Homo sapiens: one gene and its partners. The protein of the gene in region 1 purifies or fractionates together with the protein of each later gene. This does not show direct contact. Each region holds a gene or a part of one and is shown on either strand. Other genes may lie near its edges.

What was found.
Region 2: the proteins of KSR1 (region 1) and LIMA1 purify together in Homo sapiens (affinity purification with mass spectrometry; 2 studies listed by BioGRID and IntAct, with this or other methods). This does not show direct contact.
Region 3: the proteins of KSR1 (region 1) and BRAF purify together in Homo sapiens (affinity purification with western blotting; 2 studies listed by BioGRID and IntAct, with this or other methods). This does not show direct contact.

What each region holds. Positions count from the first base shown.
Region 1 is NC_000017.11:27,606,390-27,613,500, forward strand, and holds part of KSR1 (kinase suppressor of Ras 1), read left to right. Parts: intron 1-1,524; coding exon 1,525-1,621; intron 1,622-2,806; coding exon 2,807-2,940; intron 2,941-3,677; coding exon 3,678-3,809; intron 3,810-4,460; exon of another isoform or gene 4,461-4,988; intron 4,989-5,104; coding exon 5,105-5,240; intron 5,241-7,111.
Region 2 is NC_000012.12:50,273,459-50,280,569, forward strand, and holds part of LIMA1 (LIM domain and actin-binding protein 1), read right to left. Parts: intron 1-7,111. UniProt on the Homo sapiens protein: Actin-binding protein involved in actin cytoskeleton regulation and dynamics. Increases the number and size of actin stress fibers and inhibits membrane ruffling. Inhibits actin filament depolymerization.
Region 3 is NC_000007.14:140,914,856-140,921,966, reverse strand, and holds part of BRAF (serine/threonine-protein kinase B-raf), read left to right. Parts: intron 1-7,111. UniProt on the Homo sapiens protein: Protein kinase involved in the transduction of mitogenic signals from the cell membrane to the nucleus. Phosphorylates MAP2K1, and thereby activates the MAP kinase signal transduction pathway. Phosphorylates PFKFB2.

The DNA of each region.
Region 1 (7,111 bases):
CTTCTGTTAAAAGGAAGACATTTGCATATACTCACGTTTTTAAACTGTTTATTCCTTTTTGTAAAAATACAAAGGAGAGATCATGCTGGCTCACACCTTGCCTCCTGCACCCGATTGTGGGTCTGAGGTCTACTCTCTTCTAACACCTGCACAGTATCCCCATCACGTAGGCTGAACCCAGTGGTGTGCTGGTAAATGTGTAACAACCAGTTTTGGGGCAGTATGGAGGGAAGCCCTAATTTATAACATCCATCACTTCCTGTGGTGTAAATACTCTCACCATGGTCAATTTCAGACTACCAATGTTATCTCCTGGAGTGGAGTAGAGTTGGGAAGAGTTGTATAATCAAGAGCTGATCACTGGTGGTCCCGTAATTTATTTACAGAACAAGACTCCATCTCAAAAAAAAAAAAAAAGTAGTTAATGAAAAACAAAACAGGTAATTAATTAATGATAAACTAGACAGGGTCTCGCTCTGTCACCCAGGCTGGAGTGCAGTGGCGTGTTCTTGGCTCACTGCAACCTCTGCCTCCCAGGCTCAAGCAATTTTCGTGCCTCAGCCTCCCAAGTAGCTGGGATTACAGCCGTGTGCCACCACGCCTCGCTAATTTTTATATTTTCAGTAAAGATGAGGTTTCACCGTGTTGGCCAGGCTGGTCTCAAACTCTTGACCTGAGGTGATCCGCCCACCTCAGCCTCCCAAAGTGCTGAGATTACAGGCGTGAGCCACTGTGGCCTGCCTGAAACAGGAAAATATTCATTAACAAAAAAATCTTACTTTGTTTAGAATACGCTGAAGAAAAGTGGGACACAGATAAGGAAATCACCAACCAATATTCTCTACCCCTTGCCTGGTTTTCAAAGGCTCTGAGACTCCAAGAATATTTTCCTAAAAACATAGTCCCTTCCTAAGATAGCTCCCTTGGACCCACATTCTCTCTGGGTCCCTCCTCACCCGGGGTTTTAGGAGTTGATGCAGGTGGCGACCCCAGAACTGAAGCTCCTTTTCCAGTAGTCACCTTGACGCCCCTAACATCTACCCCACCCCCTTTCCCTCCTTGCACACTCCTTTATTGTAATAAAAACCCTGTGATCAAGAAAAAATGAAAACTATAATGAGATTCTTGACAGTGAGCCCCAGAGCCTTGATGTTGCCTGTTGATGCCCTTAAATTAGCCAAGTTCTTCCCCATCAGAGTGGTCCTGCCTTGAACCCACCAAGCATGGCTACTCTGAGTTCCTGAGAGCTTTGATGCACTGTTTCCTGTTGTAGGATGGGCAGGCACTGGCTCTCAGGGAATGGGGGTTTGTGTGCGTGTACGTGTGTGGTGTCATGTGTTTCTGCACGTTCAGGCCAGGCCCCAGCAGGACTGGGCTGGGTTAAAGAAGATTTGGCTCACAGTCGAGGGGCTGGAGAGAGTCCTTGCAGGCAGACGGGCACAGTTCTCCCCATGGGCTCCACCAGGGTTGGGGTCAGGCCGCACCAGCCCCAGACTTGTGCTTGACCCCCACCACCCTCGACAGCTTCTGCAAGGGGCGGACGTTGCACTCGTTTGTGAGGGACCCCAAGACGTCTCTGGACATCAACAAGACGAGGCAAATCGCTCAGGAGATCATCAAGGTGAGGGGGTGCCCAGCTGCTGGGGGTGGGTTTCTGGCCGGTTCCAGGGCTCTCGGCTGTTCCTCTCGCCCTGTTACTCCCTGTTAGGGTGGTTTGGGCAGCTTTGCCTCTCCTTCTAGCTCAGGCTCCTCAAGGGTGGGACCCCATCTCTTCCTCCCTGTCTCTGTCTCATTCATTCAGAGCTGGGAGCTGATTGTCCACATGATTAGGCTTGATGGAATTGACTTGGTTGGGAAGGAACTTGGCAGGCTTTAGAGGCCAGTTTCAATCCTGGTCACACCCTTTGTGTGACCTTGGGTAGGTTTAGCCTCTCTAAGCCTCAGTTTTCTCCCCTGTAAAATGGGGATCTTCATATATCCTCCCTCTCTGGATTGGTGTGAGGTTAAAAACGCGATAATCCATGCTGTGGGGTACACAGGAGCCCTGGGTCTGGTGTTTGAAGACAGCTTGACCTTGGATGAGATCATGCCTATGTCAGGTCACCCACGCTCCATGCACCTGACTCATCAGTGTTAGTTCAAATAGAGCATTGGTTAGAAATCACCCACTGCCACCTCTTCGCTTGATAGGTGAGGAAACCAGTCTTCAGAGAAGTTGAGCACTGTGTCCAAGGCCACAGAGTGAGTGAGAATCTGAGCTGAGATGGAGTTCAAACCCCAGATTTCTTAGTCCAGGGCTCCTTCTACTACAGCTCAGACATTAGGAGCACTCAAAGTTGGGGACCCCGCTGTGGGAATGCCTCTCTGTTCCCCCACCTTGAGCCCTTGTCCTGCCTGAGAGCACAGACCAGCTGTGCATATCCTGACAGAAAACCCCAGCTCATTTAGGCCCTTTATGACTGTACACTGATAAATCTCACTGTCCCTGACCCCCCGGCTCCCTGCCCATCACCCTGTTCACACCTCCTACCTTAGCCAAGGTTAACATGGTTGTTTAGAAGCATGGTAACATTAAAAGAGCATAGACCGGTCTGGGATCAGATCTCAGCTCTGCTTCTTCACTGCTGTGTGGCTTGGAGCAAGTGACTTTCCCTCTCTGAACCTCGATTTCTTCTTCTGTAAAATGGGGACAATATACTGCATGGAATTGTGAAGATCAAATATGGGGATTTAGGTAAATCATCCAGCCCAGGGTGGCACCTCCGTCATCGTTGCACATCTTCACTCCTCCTGATGTGTCCTCCAGGGCATGGGATATCTTCATGCCAAGGGCATCGTACACAAAGATCTCAAATCTAAGAACGTCTTCTATGACAACGGCAAGGTGGTCATCACAGACTTCGGGCTGTTTGGGATCTCAGGCGTGGTCCGAGAGGGACGGTGAGTTGGTCTTGAGTGTCTGGGTGGGTTGTGGGTGCTGGATGGGGAAGAGCAGGGCTGAGGTCTGGGCACTTTCACTGTTTGTTGCTGAGCTGCAGCCCTCCCTGCAGGGAAGCCCAGGTCGCTTTGGTCCTGCCCTCGTAGTTCTGGTTCAGAATCAGATTTGGGTCGCGTTTGGATTCTCAGGCCGACTTCCACGGAAACCAGGTCCCCACACTCACATTTGCCCTGGCTGTTCACCCGCTTGGCCAAGGAACCAGGTCATTTCCCCACGATGAGGAAGAGTGTCAAATTTTATTTCCCCAAATCTTGAAGGGATTGGCATAGGGAGAAAGGCCCCTCCCCTCACATCTAGGGGAACCCAAAAGGGAGCATGGCAGCAAGGCTGCAAGGCCAGCCCCAGCCAAGTTTGAGATCCACAGGCAGATCAGGGTTCCTGGTTAGAGAGGCGCCTCATTCTCCAGCAGAGGGAGCTGGGCACCTTCACCAGCAGCTCCCTGTCAATATTTATCCATTCTTGCCCTGCTTTTCTAGAAACAACCGGTCATGACTCCTTTGTAGAATTCCTCAAAAGCACCGGTGCCTTTCCCAAGTGCAGGGTCAGTGTTCTGGGTCTGGGTGTGTTTTCTAAGCTGTGTGTGGGTGTTCTGCCGGCCCTGGGGCAGACCTGTGCCAGGCAGGCCTCTTTGCTGCCTGCTGAAAGGCCTGTGTCCTTGTCCCGGCTTCCTGGTCTCCAGGCGTGAGAACCAGCTAAAGCTGTCCCACGACTGGCTGTGCTATCTGGCCCCTGAGATTGTACGCGAGATGACCCCCGGGAAGGACGAGGATCAGCTGCCATTCTCCAAAGCTGCTGATGTCTATGCATTTGGGTGAGTAGGCCCCTGGTGCCCTGAGGCCAAGTGTGGCCAAAACAGAGGGCCCTGGTGGCCATTGGGGGCAGAGGGAGGCATGCTTTTAGGTGTTGAAAACCCAGGCTCTGGAGTAAAAAATCAACCTTGAGTCCTGGCTCTGCCGCTTGTTGAGTGCATGGTCTTGAGTCCTGGCTCTGCCGCTTGTTGAGTGCATGACTATATCCTTGACCTGGAATAGCTCCTCCCAACAAGGTCATTTCATGAGGACTAAATCAGGTAATTGTGTGCAGTGCTTAACACTGGCTGTCAGCCCCACCCAGCTGATCTGGGAGGATGCTCACCAGAGCTGACCAAGAACTGCTCCTCCCAGTCTGGGGGAGCTGGATATCCTGCCGGCTCTGCTACCCCACAAAGACCTGGGTGCTGACCAGTAGCAATATAATGTGAGCCCGATATAGAAGTTAAAGTTTTCTAATAGCCACATTAAAAAAGAAATGGATGAAATTAGTTTCCCCTGTTTATGTTTTATATATTATAAAACGATATATTTTATTTAACTCAATATATCCAAAATATTATTTCAACATGTAATCAATATACAAATTAATAAGATATTTTATATTCTTTTTTCCTACTAAGTCTTTAAAATCTGGTGTGTTTTCTGCCTAGAGCACCCCTCCATTCAACTGTGCACATTTCAGTCACTCAGTAGCCCCCCTGTGGCAAGAGGCTCCCACATTGGACAGTGTGGGTCTGATGGAGAAAGTCCCATCCCAAGTGAAGAAAGCCAAGGGGACGTAGAGAGGCCAAGGAAGGCTCACCACCCCGGTCACCTGTGCTGTATCTGGGTATCCTTCCCAGTGGGGTGGCCTTGGCGCCATCCTTCCTCCCTGACCTTTAACTGTATCCTTTCCTGAGCACCCATGTGTGCCAGGTGCTGGGCTTGGCAATTTAGTACTCCTCAAACAACCCTGTGACAAGAGACATTAGCCCCACTGAGGTGAAGCAGTTTTACTGGGATCTTGCAGCTAGAAGGTGGCAGAGCTGGATTTGTGCTGAGGTCAGAATGACCACCAAGGCTCCGGTCAAACCTGCGCTGTCTCAGACTTCCCACCCAACGAGAGCACAGGGCCCAGGTCCTCTAGGGCTGGGAGGAGCCTCCAGGAGCCCACTGTAGCATCCCCTGAAGCCAAGTGGGTGAGGAAGGCTGGAGAAGGGTCCTGATCCTCTGGCTGGGCTATGGCTCAAGGGCCCCTGGGCTTGAGCTGGGCACAGCGGCCCAGGAGCTCACAGACATGGCTGGGTCTCTGCAGGACTGTTTGGTATGAGCTGCAAGCAAGAGACTGGCCCTTGAAGAACCAGGCTGCAGAGGCATCCATCTGGCAGATTGGAAGCGGGGAAGGAATGAAGCGTGTCCTGACTTCTGTCAGCTTGGGGAAGGAAGTCAGTGTAAGTAGTACCTGCCCTGGGTGGAGCAGTAGGGCTGGAGGTGGGGTGGGGCATGTGGCATGGCTGCCCTTCACTCACCCACCTGAGAAATGGGGTCGGTGAGGAGCTCTGCCACCTGCACGTGTCTAGCTAGAGATGAAAATGATATGCATTGCCCGGGAATGGGGAAGGAACAGGGAGGCATAAATAAGAAAATATCTATCCTCACCCCACTGCTCACCCTTTTCATTCCTTTCAGTCTTTTTTTTTTCTTAAAGATAATGGTTTTCATTGATTTATGAGATGAAAAGAAAGTAAAGCCCCATGTTATTTACATGAAAGAAGATAATTTTTTTTAAAAAAATCACTGCTGAAAATACAAATAGTTGTGCTATGCTGTGGTATTAAATCTTTCCTCATAATGTTTTTCTTGACTATTAAGAACAAATCAAAGTTTCCACAGCAAACTTGTTTTCAAAAAACCAAGTCTTAATTATAGTGGCCGACTTCTCATTTCTACATGGTTTCTCCTTAATGGATTCTCTGTGTTTGTAAGTTTTGTCAGGCTAAATAAGAGAGAGAGGCTCTCAAAAGATGTTTATTTGGAAATAGAGCGTTGCACTGGGAATATGCATGCCATGGTGAATGGCTTGCTTATTCAGGGAGGTAAAGGAAAAAATGAAGAGGATTACACAATTATTTTGACATATTTAGTAGTTTTCCCTGGCTACAGAGATGAGTAACAAGAGTGATGTCAGTCCAAGGTTAGACAGGTTGTTTGAGGCAGATGTCCTTGTAGGAGTATTTTTGTATAAGGTTGCCATGGCCTTCGTACAAGGTTGCAGTTTTTGCAGTCTTTAGTGGTAGTTTTTGTTATCAGACATACAAGCCCAAGAAGCCTCTCTTCATGGCTTTCCCAGGCCCGATTTGTCAGAGTTTTCTTCACATTTGTGACTCTCTTTTGATTCTGACAGCTTTCAGTTTCCTTTATCACAGCACAGTGATATATAAAGAAACTCCAGGGCTTGGTGTTTTCAGTGCCATCAGTGATAGCCATGTGTCCATGAATCAGATAGGATTGGGACAGAACAGCCTTGATGTTAATAAGCAACTCCAGTCAGTATTTGGGCAGCATAACAATTGAAGTCTTCAGAGGGACCACCCAGCACTTGTCCAGGCTAAGATACAAACAGGCTGTGAGCTTCTTGTTAAGGTCATGAACATTGCTGGCAGGATCACTGTCTGTCTGCAGACTCTGTCTGCAAATTTGCAGTGATGAATTCAACCTCATCGTCCTCCAAGTTCTTAATAGATGGTAATATTTTTCTCAATTGACTGGTGGCAAGCAGCTAGGGCGTCTTCAGAAGGCTCACTCAAGATGACATTATATCTGATCTACTTTATTCCACAGTAGTATATGTCATCTTGTTGAAGTGCAAAATATTTGTACGGGGATGCCCCTCCAAAGATGACACCAAAATGCTATTTAACAACACGAACAGCAGGCTCCTCTTTGGCCAGTTGATACCATTTCATCTGGGGTGCTGGGCAAGGGCCATGGGTGATGAGCACTTCTCTGACACTCTGAGGCCCGTCCTTCTTGGCCTCCTTCTGGGCCAGGGCCAGTTAAACACCACCTTCACCTTGGTGCATCCTCGGGTGCCTTAGGAGCGTGTGGTGGTGATGCAGAATTTTTTGCTCCTTAGCTCAGCTAAAATCCAGGTTCTTGTCTCATGACCAGGAAAAATTAGGCATGCGGACACATTGAAAGGTGAGGAGAGTGGAATTCATTAAAAGAAACCTCTCAGCAAAAAAGAGGGGGTCCTCCCAACAGGCTCCCATCTCACAGATTGAATATCAGGCCACCACACACGAGCTGAAGAGGCCAGGCT
Region 2 (7,111 bases), on another chromosome or scaffold:
CTTATGAGGACTAAATGAAAGGATAAAAGCAAAAGTACTTTGAAAACTGTCAGCTACTCTACAAAGCATTATTTTAAATAAAACTTCAAGCCAGCATTAAGAAAAAAAATGGAATTAAAAAAGACTAACCAATGAAAAGAAATAGAAATTAGAACTAATTCATTATAATGTCTGGTTCAACTAGATGTTAATAAGAAACCTTTTGTTTAAAGCTGTTGCTGAAAATCTTTCTAATCAGTACACTGTCTAAACAGTGTGTCTAAACAGTAACACATTTCAGAGCATGTGTTAATAGTAAGTATAATGAAAATCATTTCATTTTTTCTTGAAGATTCTAGATAGCTTTCTAATTTTTCTCCTAGAGAATGAAAACAGAAGAAAACTTCTGGTTGTTTGTGGATTCCAGTAATTGGGTTTTAGTTTTGCCACACTGGCTTTTGAAAATGTAATAGGAGTTGATAGACTAGTATAATCCAGAGTAACAATCTGGGAAGTAGATGGCTATAGTGGTAGGAAAATAGTGGCCTGGATCCTGGAAACACCTTAGAAAACTTGCACTCAGATGGAACTTAATCCTGGTTGTCACAGTATCCAAACTTTTGTCCTGCTACCTTCCGAACTCCTCAGAGACTGCTACCTGATTTGAACCCAGATGGACCGACCTCAGCTGTTGTCCAGTTAAAAAAAATACAACACTTTGGATTGCAAAACAAAACAAGACTTGTCCAAATGAAAAGTCCATCTTCAAGGCTTATTCATTCATTCAACAAATATTTATTTAGCATTTACCAAGTCTTTGGCAGTATTCCAAGTGCTGAAGATATAATGTTAAAAATGACAGACAAGGCCGAGCGCGATGGCTCACGCCTGTAATCCCAGCACTTTGAGAGGCCAAGGCAGGCGGATAATGAGGTCGAGAGATGCAGACCATCCTGGCCAACATGGTGAAATCCTGTCGCTACCAAAAATAAAAAATTTAGCTGGGTGTGGTGGCAGGTGCCTGGAGTCCCAGCTACTTGGGAGGCTGAAGCAGGAGACTCTTGAACCTGGGAGTTGGAGGTTGCAGTGAGTCAAGATCGTGCCATTCCACTCCACCCTGGGTGACAGAGTGAGGCTCCATCTCAAAAAAAAAAAAGACAGACATGGTCTCTACTCTCATGAAATTTCCATTCCACTGGAGAAGCCGGACAATTAAAGACTGTGATTAGTGGTGTGAAGGAAATACAAAAAGAGTAACTGGAGTTGTGGTAGGAACAGGGACACGAACAGCTTCTTTAGGCAGTGATCAGGGAAGGCCTCATTGAGTGAATGACATTTGAACTGAAACCTGAATGATGGGGAGAACATATGCAGCCAGCAAGGTGAAGACAATAGATGGGGGAGTTTTCCAGGTAGAGGAAAGCAAATGCAAAGGCCCTGAGGAAGGAATAATACAGCTAGGAAGTAAGTGAGAAGCATGCGATGACACAGAGATGAGTAGTAGTCAGATTAAATACGGATTAATAACAATGCTAAAGGATTTTAATTTTATTCTATGTGTGATACAAAGCCAAACATTATTATATAAAAGTGTGTTTGCAAGATCAGATATATTTCATGTACTAAATGAGTACTTTGGCCAGGTGCGGTGGCTCATGCCTATAATCCCAGCACTTTGGGAAGCTGAGGTGGGCAGATCACTTGAGGCCAGGAGTTCTAGACCAGCCTGGCCAACATGGTGAAACCCTGTCTCTACTAATAATACAAAAAAAAAACAAAATTAGCCAGGCGTGGTGGCGCGTGCCTGTAGTCCCAGCTACTCCGGAGGTCTGAGGCATGAGAATCACCTGAACCCAGGAGGTGGGGGTTGCAGTGAGCTGAGATTGCGCCATTGCACTCCAACCTGGGACAGAATGAAACTGTGTCTCAAAATAATAAAATAAAATGAGTTCTTAATTGTTTATATGTGCATAATGGCCACAAAATGAAAAGGAAGGGAAAGGTTCTCATACCTAAAAGGCTTGTAATCTTACAAGGAAGCAATAATTTATAAATAGTGACAACATTAAGTAAGGTAAGAAATGAAGCAAAAATCAAGTGTTAAGTATAAAGACTGGGGAGGCAGCCACTGATTCAAGTAGAAGAAATTAGAAAAGGCTTTTTTTTATTAAAAAAATTTAAAAAGGTAGCATTTGATTTGGGCTCTTAAGGAAAAGGATTTCAACAAGAGGGTGGGGAAGGGGAGGAGCATGAGGCTGTGGTAACTGCATGAGCAAAGGCACAGAGGCAGGAAAGAACTGGGCAGGTCCAGGAAACAGAGAATTATTGTAGGGTCACAGTGCCAGGTGGGTGGGTCGTGTTGTGGGAGATAAGCCTAAAAGAATAGGCTGTCAGAGTGGGGGTGTGGGTGTCTTGAAGAGCATGTCAGAAAGCTAGACTGAATTTACTTAGGCATTGTCTCCCCTTAAGTTTGTATATAAATCTCTTGAGGTACTTGATAAACTTCAGGTTCCCAGGCCCATCCCTCAGACACACTGATCTGCAGGTCTAGGTGGGACCTGAGACTCTACCTTTTTAACCACTGCCAGGTAATTCTAACACAGGCAATTAAAGGAACCATATTTTGAAAATCAGTGCTTTTTTTTTTTATGACAACTCTGATAACTTTTCTGCAAGGGAAAAACTGAAGCCAACTCTAAGGATTACTCAAGGACTCAAGGACTCTGGCAAAAAACTAAAAGGGGAATCTGAATTAGAAGACTGATTAAAGAACTCTTATCACCCCTGGGGCAGAATCAGCCAAACTTGGGGATTGATCAAATGTGGGTGGAGAAAAGTATTAAAGTGGTAAGTACAACCTCAAGCTTTCTCCTTAGTGAATCTGGGTGTACGCAGATGCATGGCGTACAGGGACTATCCACATAGCCTAACAGGTAGCTGGAAATACAGATCTGGAACTCAGATATACAAAGGCATTAAACATATTGGTTTGGTACTTCAAAGTAAGTTCAATACAAATTAAAGAATTAAATATAAAGTGTAAAACGGTAAAAATCAGAAGGAAATGAAAGTGAGTATTTAACCAATCTCTGGATGGTGAAGGCCTTCTAAACATCACAGCACCAGAAGAAATCTCAAATTTAAAAATCCAGGCTGGGTGTGGTGGCTCACGCCTGTAATTGTAACACTTTGGAAGGCCGAGGCGGGCAGATTACCTGGGTCAGGAGTTCAAGACCAGCCTGGCCAATATGGAGAAACCCTGTCTCTACTAAAAATACAAAAATTAGCTAGGCGTGGTGGCATGTGCCTGTAATCCCAGCTACTTGGGAGGCTGAGGCATGAGAATCACTTGAACCCTGGAGGAGGAGGCTAGAGTGAGCCGAGATTGTGCCACTGCACTCCAGCCTGGGTGACTGAGTGACACACTGTCTCAAAAAAAAAAAAATCTATAGATAAGTAATAATATACTATATACAAAATTAAAAGGCAAACTGGTTAAATATTTGACCACAGGACAAAAAATTAATATTCTTAGAAGAGTTTATACCAATCTCAAAGAAAAACACTAAGAATGGTTCTGTATGAAGTAGAAGAAGTTGTTAAATAACTTGCCTTGGAGACGTACACCCTCTAGTCACAAAATGAGACATTTTTCACATACATTGTAGATAATCGAGTTTTGTGGCACAGGTCAGCAGGGCTTCTGTGATTTTATCTTACCAGTTTCCAAGTGTCAGTCTATGGGAGTGCCTAAAAAAATACCAATCTTTTTGACTTCTTTTTTTTTCTTTTCTTCCCCCAACCCCCACAGCAAGAACCCCATTCAATTTTTTTTTTATACTTCTATTTTCCTGAAAGTTAAAGGGCACAAACAAATTAAGCTGTCCCCAGGCTCCCCTTGCTACTCCGGTGGACACTGCCTTTACTGCATCCAGTCTTTCCTCAGGCTCTATATATCTAAAATTAGGTGAAAGGTTAGAGATGAGACAGAAAGTAATTCCAGAATGTCTAGTGAACAGTAGTAGCTCCAAAGGCATCCTTTCAGCACAGAGGTTGTCCAGTCTTGGGGATCAAAAGCCCAACCCTCTCATTTTACAGATGAGGCTCTGAGTCAATGAATCAATGACTTGTCCAAGATCACCTGATTGGTTGATGACAACATTAAGTTGGGAATCCTGACTCTCAAATAGCACCCTTTCCATTCTGCAGTACTGCTTCATTGATCACAAGCTCTGGCCCCTCAAAACAATGGGCATTTATAACACCACAATTCCAACTTCTGTATACTTTCCACTTTGTCACTCCATTCACTCTATTTGGTCTAATAAAAGCCTGTGCTTCCCCCACAAAACGCTCCAAATAAAAGAATACCAAACAAAAAACCAACATAATTAAAATGTTAACGCCCAAATAAAAATGGGAGTGGGATTAACCCAGACATAATTCACAGAAGAAACAGAAATGAATGTATGAAAAATGTTCTCTCTCACTAGCAAAGAAATACAAATTAATTCATTTCTGCCTATCAAATTAGTAAAGATTAAAAAATAATATTCGGGCCGGGCGCGGTGGCTCATGCTGTAATCCCAGCACTTTGGGAGGCCGAGGTGGGCAGATCTCCTGAGGTCAGGGGCTTGAGGTCAGCCTGATCAACAGGGTGAAACCCTGTCTCTACTAAAAAACACAAAAATTAGCCAGACGGGCTGGGCGAGGTGGCTCATGCCTGTAATCCCAGCACTTTGGGAGGCCGAGGTGGGCGGATCACAAGGTCAGGAGATTGAGACCATCCTGGCTAACACGGTGAAACCCCATCTCTACTAAAAATAAAAAAAAAAATAGCCAGGTGTGGTGGCGGGCACCTGTAGTCCCAGCTACTCAGGAGTCTGAGGCAGGAGAATGGCATGAACCCGGGACGTGGAGCTTGCAGTGAGCAGAGATCGTGCCACTGCACTCCAGCCTGGGCGACAGAGCGAGACTCCATCTCAAAAATCATCATAATAATAATATTCAATGTTACCAAGGCCGCACTAAGATGGGCACTCACAATCACTGCAGTTGAGAATGTTAATTAGTCTAATCTTTACAAAAAGCAATTTGGGAGCAGGTTTAGTATTTTTAAATTTTCACACTCCTTGACCTGGTAATTCAACCTCTGGGAATCTAACCTAAGGAAATAATGAGTCATTTGCACAAAGATTTATGCATAAATTTGTTCTCAATTGTTTTCATTTAATGTAAAACCAAAACACAAATAAATTATGCAACCTCAATATAATAAATTATTAAATAGATTACAATGGAGATTAAATATCCATTTAAATGTTTTCAAAAATTTTTGATGCTATGAAAAATAATATAAAGCAAAAAAAGCAGACACAAAACTATATCTACTGCAACAGTATGAGTTCAATTACCTTTGTGTTTATGTGAGTGTGTGTATATCAAAGAAAACAAAACCACTGAAAGGAAATATATCAAATGATAGATCTCTCTGGAACAGATTATGGAATATGGGTTATTTTGTCTTCTTTATAATTTGTTTTTTCCACATTTTCTTTTTTTCTTTTCTTTTCTTTTTTTTTTTTTGATATGGAGTCTTGCTTTGTCACCCAGGCTGGAGTGCAGTGGCATGAGCTTGGCTCTCTGCAACCTCTGCCTCCTGGGTTCAAGGGATTCTCCTGCTTCAGCCTCCTTAGTAGCTGGGACTACAGGCATGCGCCACCATGCCCAGCTAATTTTTGTATTTTTAGTAGAGATGGGGTTTCACTATGTTGGCCAGGCTGGTCTCGAACTCCTGACCTCAAGTGATCACCCGCCTCAGCCTCCCAAAGTGCTGGGATTACAGGCATGAGCCATCACACCCGGCCTGTTTTTTCCACATTTTCTATAATAAACATATATAATTTTTATTTTATAATAATATAAATATCTATAATTTTTATTTTTAAATGTGTTGGCATATATGAAAATAAAACAATTATATATACAATATGAAAGAAGTTTTTTAAAAAGATAAATTTTCAGGCCACTTACATGGAGGTGATAGTGGAAGTCATGGAAAGAAATCAGATTATAAAGGGAGAAAGTATAGTGAGAATAGGAAGCTGAGCAGGGCTATGGTGAACCCGGCATTTAAGGGGCAAAAAGACTGAGTTAATGGATCATGGGAGTAAGTGGTTAGATTAGAAAATGGAGAACCAGATAGTAGTCATGTCAAGAAAAGCAAATGAAAGGAAGAACTAGACAAGTTGTTCACTTGGTCAGTTATTGCCAAGGGGTAAGGACCGTTAGACAGAAACCACTGGATACTATGCATGGACAGACAGCTTTCCTGTAGTGCTGGAAGCCAAATTTTTGCTCAGACGCCAAAGCTGAGCAAATGTTACCTGTTTAGTAAAACTGACTATGAAATAAAAGAAGTCCCGGGGCATTAGCTTGAATTTCAGTTTATGGAGAAAAAAAAGATTGTGGAAATCTAAAACTAAGTAAAGCGGATATTGGGACTAATTTATGGGTAATGAAACAAAAATGGCAATACTTTGTGCAAGACAAAACATATTTGAAGGACTGTAAAGTTTTCCATATCATAAACTCTGTTACAGAATAATTAAGGGGGAAAATAGATCCACACTTGTTATCAGAAGTACAAAAAAGTTGCATCTTTTTTTCCCCTAAAGATGAAAGTTCTTAGTTTCAGGGTAGTAGTATTTTTTTTTTTTTTTTTTTTTTTTTTTTGAGACGGAGTCTCACTCTGTCACGCAGGCTGGAGTGCAGTGGCGCGATCTCCGCTCACTGCAAGCTCCGCCTCCCGGGTTCACGCCATTCTCCCGCCTCAGCCTCCCGAGTAGCTAGGACTACAGGCGCCTGCCACCACGCCCGGCTAATTTTGTTTTTGTATTTTTAGTAGAGACTGGGTTTCACCATGTTAGCTAGGATGGTCTCGATCTCCTGACCTCGTGATCCTCCCGCCTCGGCCTCCCAAAGTGCTGGGATTACAGGCGTGAGCCACCGCGCCCGGCCCAGGGTAGTAGTATTAAGAAATTATTTAAAAGAACATCAAAAGAATGTAAAATTTTCATGGTATCATGTTAACTTCTTATGAGTGGACACAGGAAGTCTCTAGAAAGTTTTC
Region 3 (7,111 bases), on another chromosome or scaffold:
GAAATGTGCTGTGGTCTTTTATTTGAAGTCTTCCTTACATTCACTTAAAGGGATCTTTTACTGCAAATTACATGGAAAGAATGAAAAGGTTTGCTTGTGTGTAATGACACATTTTATTCTGAAGATTTATTTTACCTAACAGTAAAATGTAGGTTTTTTTTTTTTAAATAAAAGTTTCCCAGAGGGAAATTTCATCTAAAAAAAAAGTCTGATTTCAAAGGGAAAGCAAGTCATTATCAAAAATTAGAAAACTATAAGTACAAAAAGTAAAAAATCATCAGTAATTTTGCCACTAAGATATTATTACTATAGACATTTTGGTGTATTCCATCTGTTCTTTTTTAATGCTTTTATAACACTATGTAGTTTTGTATTTTAAAAAACTTAAAGCAAAAATTTCTACGTATTATTAGACATACTGTGATTTATTTAACTAATCATTTTTTTGGGGTGTTAGGTTGTTTTTAATTTTTTACTGCCATCAAACATCTTGAACATAGGATGTAGATTTTAGTCTTTAAAATATGTTGGGGAATGAACAAATTTCACATCCTGTATTTGTAGTATTAATACTTTGTAGGTGCTCAAAATAGAATATTCTGGTAAATGATTAGTGCTTATTAAATATTTATCAAATGAATGTACTTGTACTTTTGGCATTAAACATTAACATCTGACCATTTATATTTACCTGATTTTTTTTCTATGGCCATATGGTATGAAATAGTGTATGGTATAAATTAACCATATGGTATAATAAATACATTTTTTTAAGTGTGATACCAGAGTGATATTTATTAACTGTTCTTCCTGTGCTGTTTCTGTAGAAGGGAGCTTCTCACAATTGCATTAGAATTACAATTTTATTATGTTCTGTTTTCAAGATCTCTGATCGTCAGTCTTAAACTGTTTAATTATAATAATGTATTGACTAGGGAATATTCTGGGATATAATCTCCTTTATAATGAGGTCCACTGTATTAAAATACATCTTTGCAAGCCACACCAGGTTGGATTGCATCATAACCCTGAAAAGTGGTATTCTCATTAATGCAGGTGCTTGTGCAGTTTTGGCTATTGCTGTTAATACTTATACAGATATATTCACAGGTGCCCTTGTGGCAAAAATCATAAAATAGTTGTTTGTCTTTGGTATTTCTAGTGTTCACTTTCTATATTCTTTTCTCTCTCCTTATTTACTGAACTCCCTTCTTTAGGCATCCACTCACTCCTTTTTCTGTTTAGAATATTATCTGTCAGTCATTTTATATGTTGGCCATTAAAGGAATAAACTGTCAGTAAACAGCTAAGAAAGGAATGTTGGACTGGGTGCTTGAATCCTTGAATGTAGTAAATGTGAGTGCAAACTTGATTTAATTGTACATGTATTTGGATAATAGGCCAGAAAAATTACATTAGGGTAACAGGCTAGAACAGTCTGACTTTTCTTGTTTTTCTATCCCTTGCTTTCTTGATTAGAATGAATAGGAGGTGGGTCTGGATATAGCAGCTGGAAACCTGTGTTCCATGAGTGATGGGGAAGAGAGGGAGGGAATAGGTTCCTCTGATTTTTGGCATTTTCTAAGACCTGATGCCCACCTTGTCAGAGAATGCGATGACTACTTTTGTGTTCTTCCTTTTCCCTTTTTCTCCCAATTATAAAATTGTTTTCTCTTTCAGAACTGCAGAAGTGCATTTTGTTTCTTTGACACTTTGATGTTGTTAATTTAGCTGAATACCTAGTGAACATTTTGTGTCATAATCCCCTTGTTTTATGAAATCCAGTATGGTCTAGTCACCTTACATTTCTGCCTCATATTGTCCTTAAGCCTTTTTTTGTCAGTAGCTCTTACTAGATTTTGTCTTCATCAGAAGTTAAAGTGTTTTAAGTCCTTTACTCATTCTGTTTCTCTATTTTAACTTACATTGGTTATTCTGTAAAGTCAGATGTGGCAGTAGGGCTGGTCGTGGTGGCTCACACCTGTAGTCCCAGCTACTTGGGAAGCTGAGATGGGAGCATCACTTGAGCCCTGAAGTTCGAGGCTGCAGTGAGCCATGATCGCACCACTGCACTCTAGCCTGGCAACAGAGTGAGACCCTGCCTCAAAACAAACAAACAAACAAACAAAAAAAAAACAAAAAAACTTGCTTGTAGAACTTCTGAATTCAAAATAGGTGGGCCTATTTGGGAGCTTTTCTGTTTTTAAGGTGTCAAGTACTGCTTTTTAAAATCATAAGGTTATGGATAACTTCATGTTAGTGTAAGAAGAAAAATATAGCCTCATTTGTTCCATTTCTTTCTTAAATTTTTTGTTTTCATTGCCATGTTTTTATTTTTCGATTTCAATTTTTCCAGCCTAAATCACTAACATACTTAATTAGCATGGTAATCAGAAGATACTCTTTAATACAGTCTCCACCCTAACATTAAGCAATTATTTTTCCCCCCTACCCTCTGAGATTATTTTTGTGTCCATGTTTTCTCTTGGGCTTAAAAAAAAAAACTATTATTCTAATTCCTTCCTGTATCAAGACTATGCATATAGAGGGAACTCAATGCCCAGTAACTTCTTTTTCTGGGCCCTGGTGATGTAGAATATAAAAATTGCTTTGAACTCAATTAACTTTATATCTTCTGGAAGCTCTGTAACATCGGATAAAGCGTCGTTTTCATTCTTGTAATGTAGCTGCAGTTCCTGACAGCACGTTTGGGACAAATGTACTGTGGGACGGTGGTTTTCAAAGTACGCCAGAGCTCTAGGAGAATTTTTCGAAAACATTCTATCATTGTAAATAATAATTTTTTTTTTTTTTTTTTTTGAGACGGAGTCTCGCTCTGTCTCGCAGACTGGAGTGCAGTGGCGCGATCTCAGCTCACTGCAAGCTCTGCCTCCCGGGTTCACGCCTTTCTGCCTTTCTCCTGCCTCAGCCTCCCCAGTAGCTGGGACTACAGGCGCCTGCCACCACGCCCAGCTAATTTTTTGTATTTTTAGTAGAGACGGGGTTTCACCGTGTTGGCCAGGATGGTCTCAATCTCCTGACCTCGTGATCTGCCCGCCTCAGCCTCCCAAAGTGCTGGGATTACAGGCGTGAGCCACCACACCTGGCCAGAATAAAAATTCCAAATTGCACTAATGCATATGTGAAACTGTTTTTGTCTGTTTTGTAGTTTTAAAATCTTCATCTATAATAGTACCTGGCACATAGGTACTAAAATATTTGGTGAAAGAATTAGTGAATAAAACCTTACTGGATATGAGGTGATCTGATTTTCTGTAACATTCTATTCTTTTTTTCTGCCGGTCACAAAATCACCTTATGAAATTGACAGCCAAATTGGCTGCAACAGGCAGTTTGAAAAACACTGTTTTGGGGTTTCAAGGACCTTCTTCAGAGGTTACCCCAGGGCTCTGTTTAGTGCCTCTATACCAGGGGCCCCCAACCCCTGGGCCACAGCCTCGTATCTACCAGTCCGTGACCTGTTAGGAACCTGACTACACCGCAGGAGGTGAGTGGCAGGCAAGTGAGCATTACCGCCAAAGCTCCACCTCCTGTCAGATCAGCGGCAGGAGCGTGAACCCTATCAGAAACTGTGCATGTGAGGGATCTAGATTGTGTGCTTCTTGTGAGAATCTAATGCCTGATGATCTGAGGTGGAACAATTTCATCCTGAAACCCCCTCTACCCCTGTCCATGGAAAAATTGTCTTCCATGAAATTGGTCACTGGTCCCAAAAAGGTTGGGGAGTGCTGCCCTATACCATAACTATTGAAGTTCTTCATTTATCTGCTTTACATGTTAGTTTCCTTGAAAAAAGGGTTTTATGGCTGTAAAAATTTTAGAGCTACTATGTATGGAAGAGAGGTTTGTGCTGGCATAAATCTTCTCAGGTATCATCTGTGTAGAAAATTTCAACAACTTGTGTCTTAAGGCAGAGGTCAGCAATCTTAAGGGTCAGATGGCAAATATTTTAGGCATTGTGGGACATACAGTTCCTCTCACAATTCCTCAACAATACTGTAGTAGCTCAGAAGTAGCTAATAGACAATATTTAAACAAATGAGTTTGACTCTGTTCCAGTAGTCATTTTCAGGACACTGAAATTTGAATTTCATATCATTTTCATGTGTCATGAAAATCTTCTTTTGATTTTTTTTCTACCACTTAAACATGTAAAAAGTATTCTTAGCTTGTGAGCTATACAAAAGCAGATAGTGGGCCAGTTCATGGGCTGAACTGTTCTGACTCCTGGTCTAAGGGAGACTATATATGTTATATTTGAGGTTCTCAAAGTAAGATGTAGGTTAGAGGTCTATAGAAAGTTCATAATTGCTTTTGTAAAAACTAGATTGATTTATTTGAGAGGGAGAGAGAGGTGGAGTTTCACTGTATTGCCCAGGCTGGACTTGAACTCTGGGCTCAAGCAATCTTCCAGCCTCAGCCTCCCAAGTAGCTAGGACTACAGGCATGCACCAAGCCCAGCTCCTAGTTCCTCTTTGCACTCAGTTTCATCTTCTACCCTCAGCCCCTGGCAAACACTGGTCTGATCTCTGTGCCCTTTCCAGAAAGTCATATAAATGGAGTCATATAAAAGTCATATCAGTGGGGCCGGGCATGGTGGCTCACACCTGTAATTTCAGCACTTTGGGAGGCTGAGGAGGGCAGATCACCTGAGGTCAGGAGTTTGAGACTGGCCTGGCCAACATGGTGAAACCCCCTCTCTACTAAAAATACAAAAATTAGCCGAGCATGGTGGTGGGCACCTGCAATCCCAGCTACCTGGGAGGCTGAGGCAGGAGAAACACTTGAACCCGGGAGAGGGAGGTTGTAGTGAGCCGAGATCGCGTCATTGCACTCCAGCAATTGTGAAGCAGTGGTTAAGGTTCATTCATTATTTTACATATGGATGTCCAGTTGTTTCACATTTATCAAATTTCTTTTGAATCACCTTGGCACTTTTATTGAAATCAATTGCTTATGTTTGTGAGTTTTGGATTCTACTGTTTTATTGATCTGTGTGTGTTTTCTTAGGCTAATACCCCACTACCTTAGTTATGATAGCTTTATAGTTAAATTTAAAATCAGGTAGGTCCAGTTGAGAAGATTTTTAGAACTTTGACTTTTTAATTTCTTGTTACCATACTTTTGGAAGGAGAAGACTCATAATTTTATTCAGGTTTTCAAAGGTGTCTTCTACCCCCAAATACTTAAGACTTCAGTATATAGTTAATATATCTCTGTCTTGAATTATGTGGTGGTGAGGTTCATGAAAAGTGACAGGTAAAAGTTGCAACCAAAATTAATTTCCTTATAAGAAAGGACATATTTTAGTAGGTTGCACAGAAAAGTCAATCACGTCCTTTTTACCGTGTTGCATTATGAGGTGTAATCAAAATGTGTATAGGGGAAAATGAATATGTTAAGATGTTTATTCACCAAAAAAAGTCACCGAAAGTGTCAATTAGGTTGTGAAAGATACTAGTTTACAATGTGTTATTCTCCATCTTCATTAGAAGAGTTCTTCCATTTGAAACCTATGTCATGTTCTGTGATATTTCAGAGTTAGTATCTTTATGAATCTTAGGGGCATCATTAAATCATTATGTTTCTTCTAAGGAAAGGCATATGGTAGTAGTTGGTCATATTTCTACCTTTTTCAGTGGGGCCTATAGGGCCCCTTTACTTTGTTTTAAACTGCACTGATAGCTTTTTACTGGTTAGCCCAGGGAATTATCCCTACAGTGTAAAATGATGTTTCTCATCATGATTTTCATTTAATAATTTAAAAACAAAATAACAGGAAACACATGTTTCTAGAGAGGAAGTGTGGAATACCTGACTAGTAGAGGGTCAGGTGACAATTGCGAAGGTAGAAACTGACTAAGTTTTGACCATGTTGCAAGGAGTATCGTTCCAGTTTTGTTGGGTCACCTTGCAGAGTTTTTAAAAAAAATCCTTGGGTTTTTTTTGTTTGTTTGTTTGTTTGTTTTGGTAGAGATGCTGTGTTGCTCAGGCTAGTCTCGAAATCCTGGGCTCAAGCAGTCCTTCCCAGAGTGCTGGGATTACAGGCATGAGCCACCGCACCCAGCATCACCTTGCCGATTTTGAAACTACACTTCCAGGGAGAGAGTAATACAATATCTTGGCAGACTATTTTTAACTATTGTTCCAAAATTAATCTGTTTTTAAAAAGTAAAGAAGTGTGGATATCTTTAAAAGATACTTTAATTAGGCTGGTCACGGTGGCTCATGCCTGTAATCCCAGCACTTTGGGAGGCCAGGATGGGTGGATCACCTGAGGTCAGGAGTTCGAGACCAACCTGACCAACATGGAGACACTCCGTCTCTACTAAAAATGCAAAAAATTAGCCGGGCATGGTGGCGCATGTCTGTAATCCCAGCTACTTGGGAGGCTGAGGCAGGAGAATTGCTTGAACCTGGGAGGCGGAGGTTGCAGTGAGCCGATATTGCGCCATTGCACTCCAGCCTGGGCAACAAGAGTGAGGGAAACTCCGTGTCAAAAAAAAAAAAAAAGATACTTTAATTATATTTAAGTTGGGGAATACTTTTGTTTTATATTTTTTCTTGCACTAAATATGTAACCTTTAAGTTAATAACACCAGAAAATTTTTACTTTATAGTTTTAGAACTGCTTAATTGAAATAAAATGTTAGGATACTTTGAATTAGTCACTTATTTTGGCATATTTTAAACAGTTTAATGTACTGCTTGGGGTTGTTTCTCAATTGACTTGATATTTTTAAACTGTATTTTTTACCTTGTACCATTTATTTTGCAAAATAAATTTCTATTTTGGCTTATAGATGTATTTTTAATATTAAAGGGGATTATTGGTGTCAGCCATAAAATTGTAATTAAGTCTTAAGTAGGTATGGTTTTTTTTTTTTTTTTTTTTTGGAGACGGAGTCTCGCTCTATCATCCATGCTGGAGTGCAGTGGTGTGATCTCGGCTCATTGCAACCTCCGCCCCCCCCCCCCCCCGGGTTCAAGTGATTCTCCTGCCTCAGCCTCCAGAGTAGCTGGCACTACAGGCGCATGCCACCATGCCCGGCTAATTTTTTTGTATTTTTGGTAGAGATGGGATTTCACC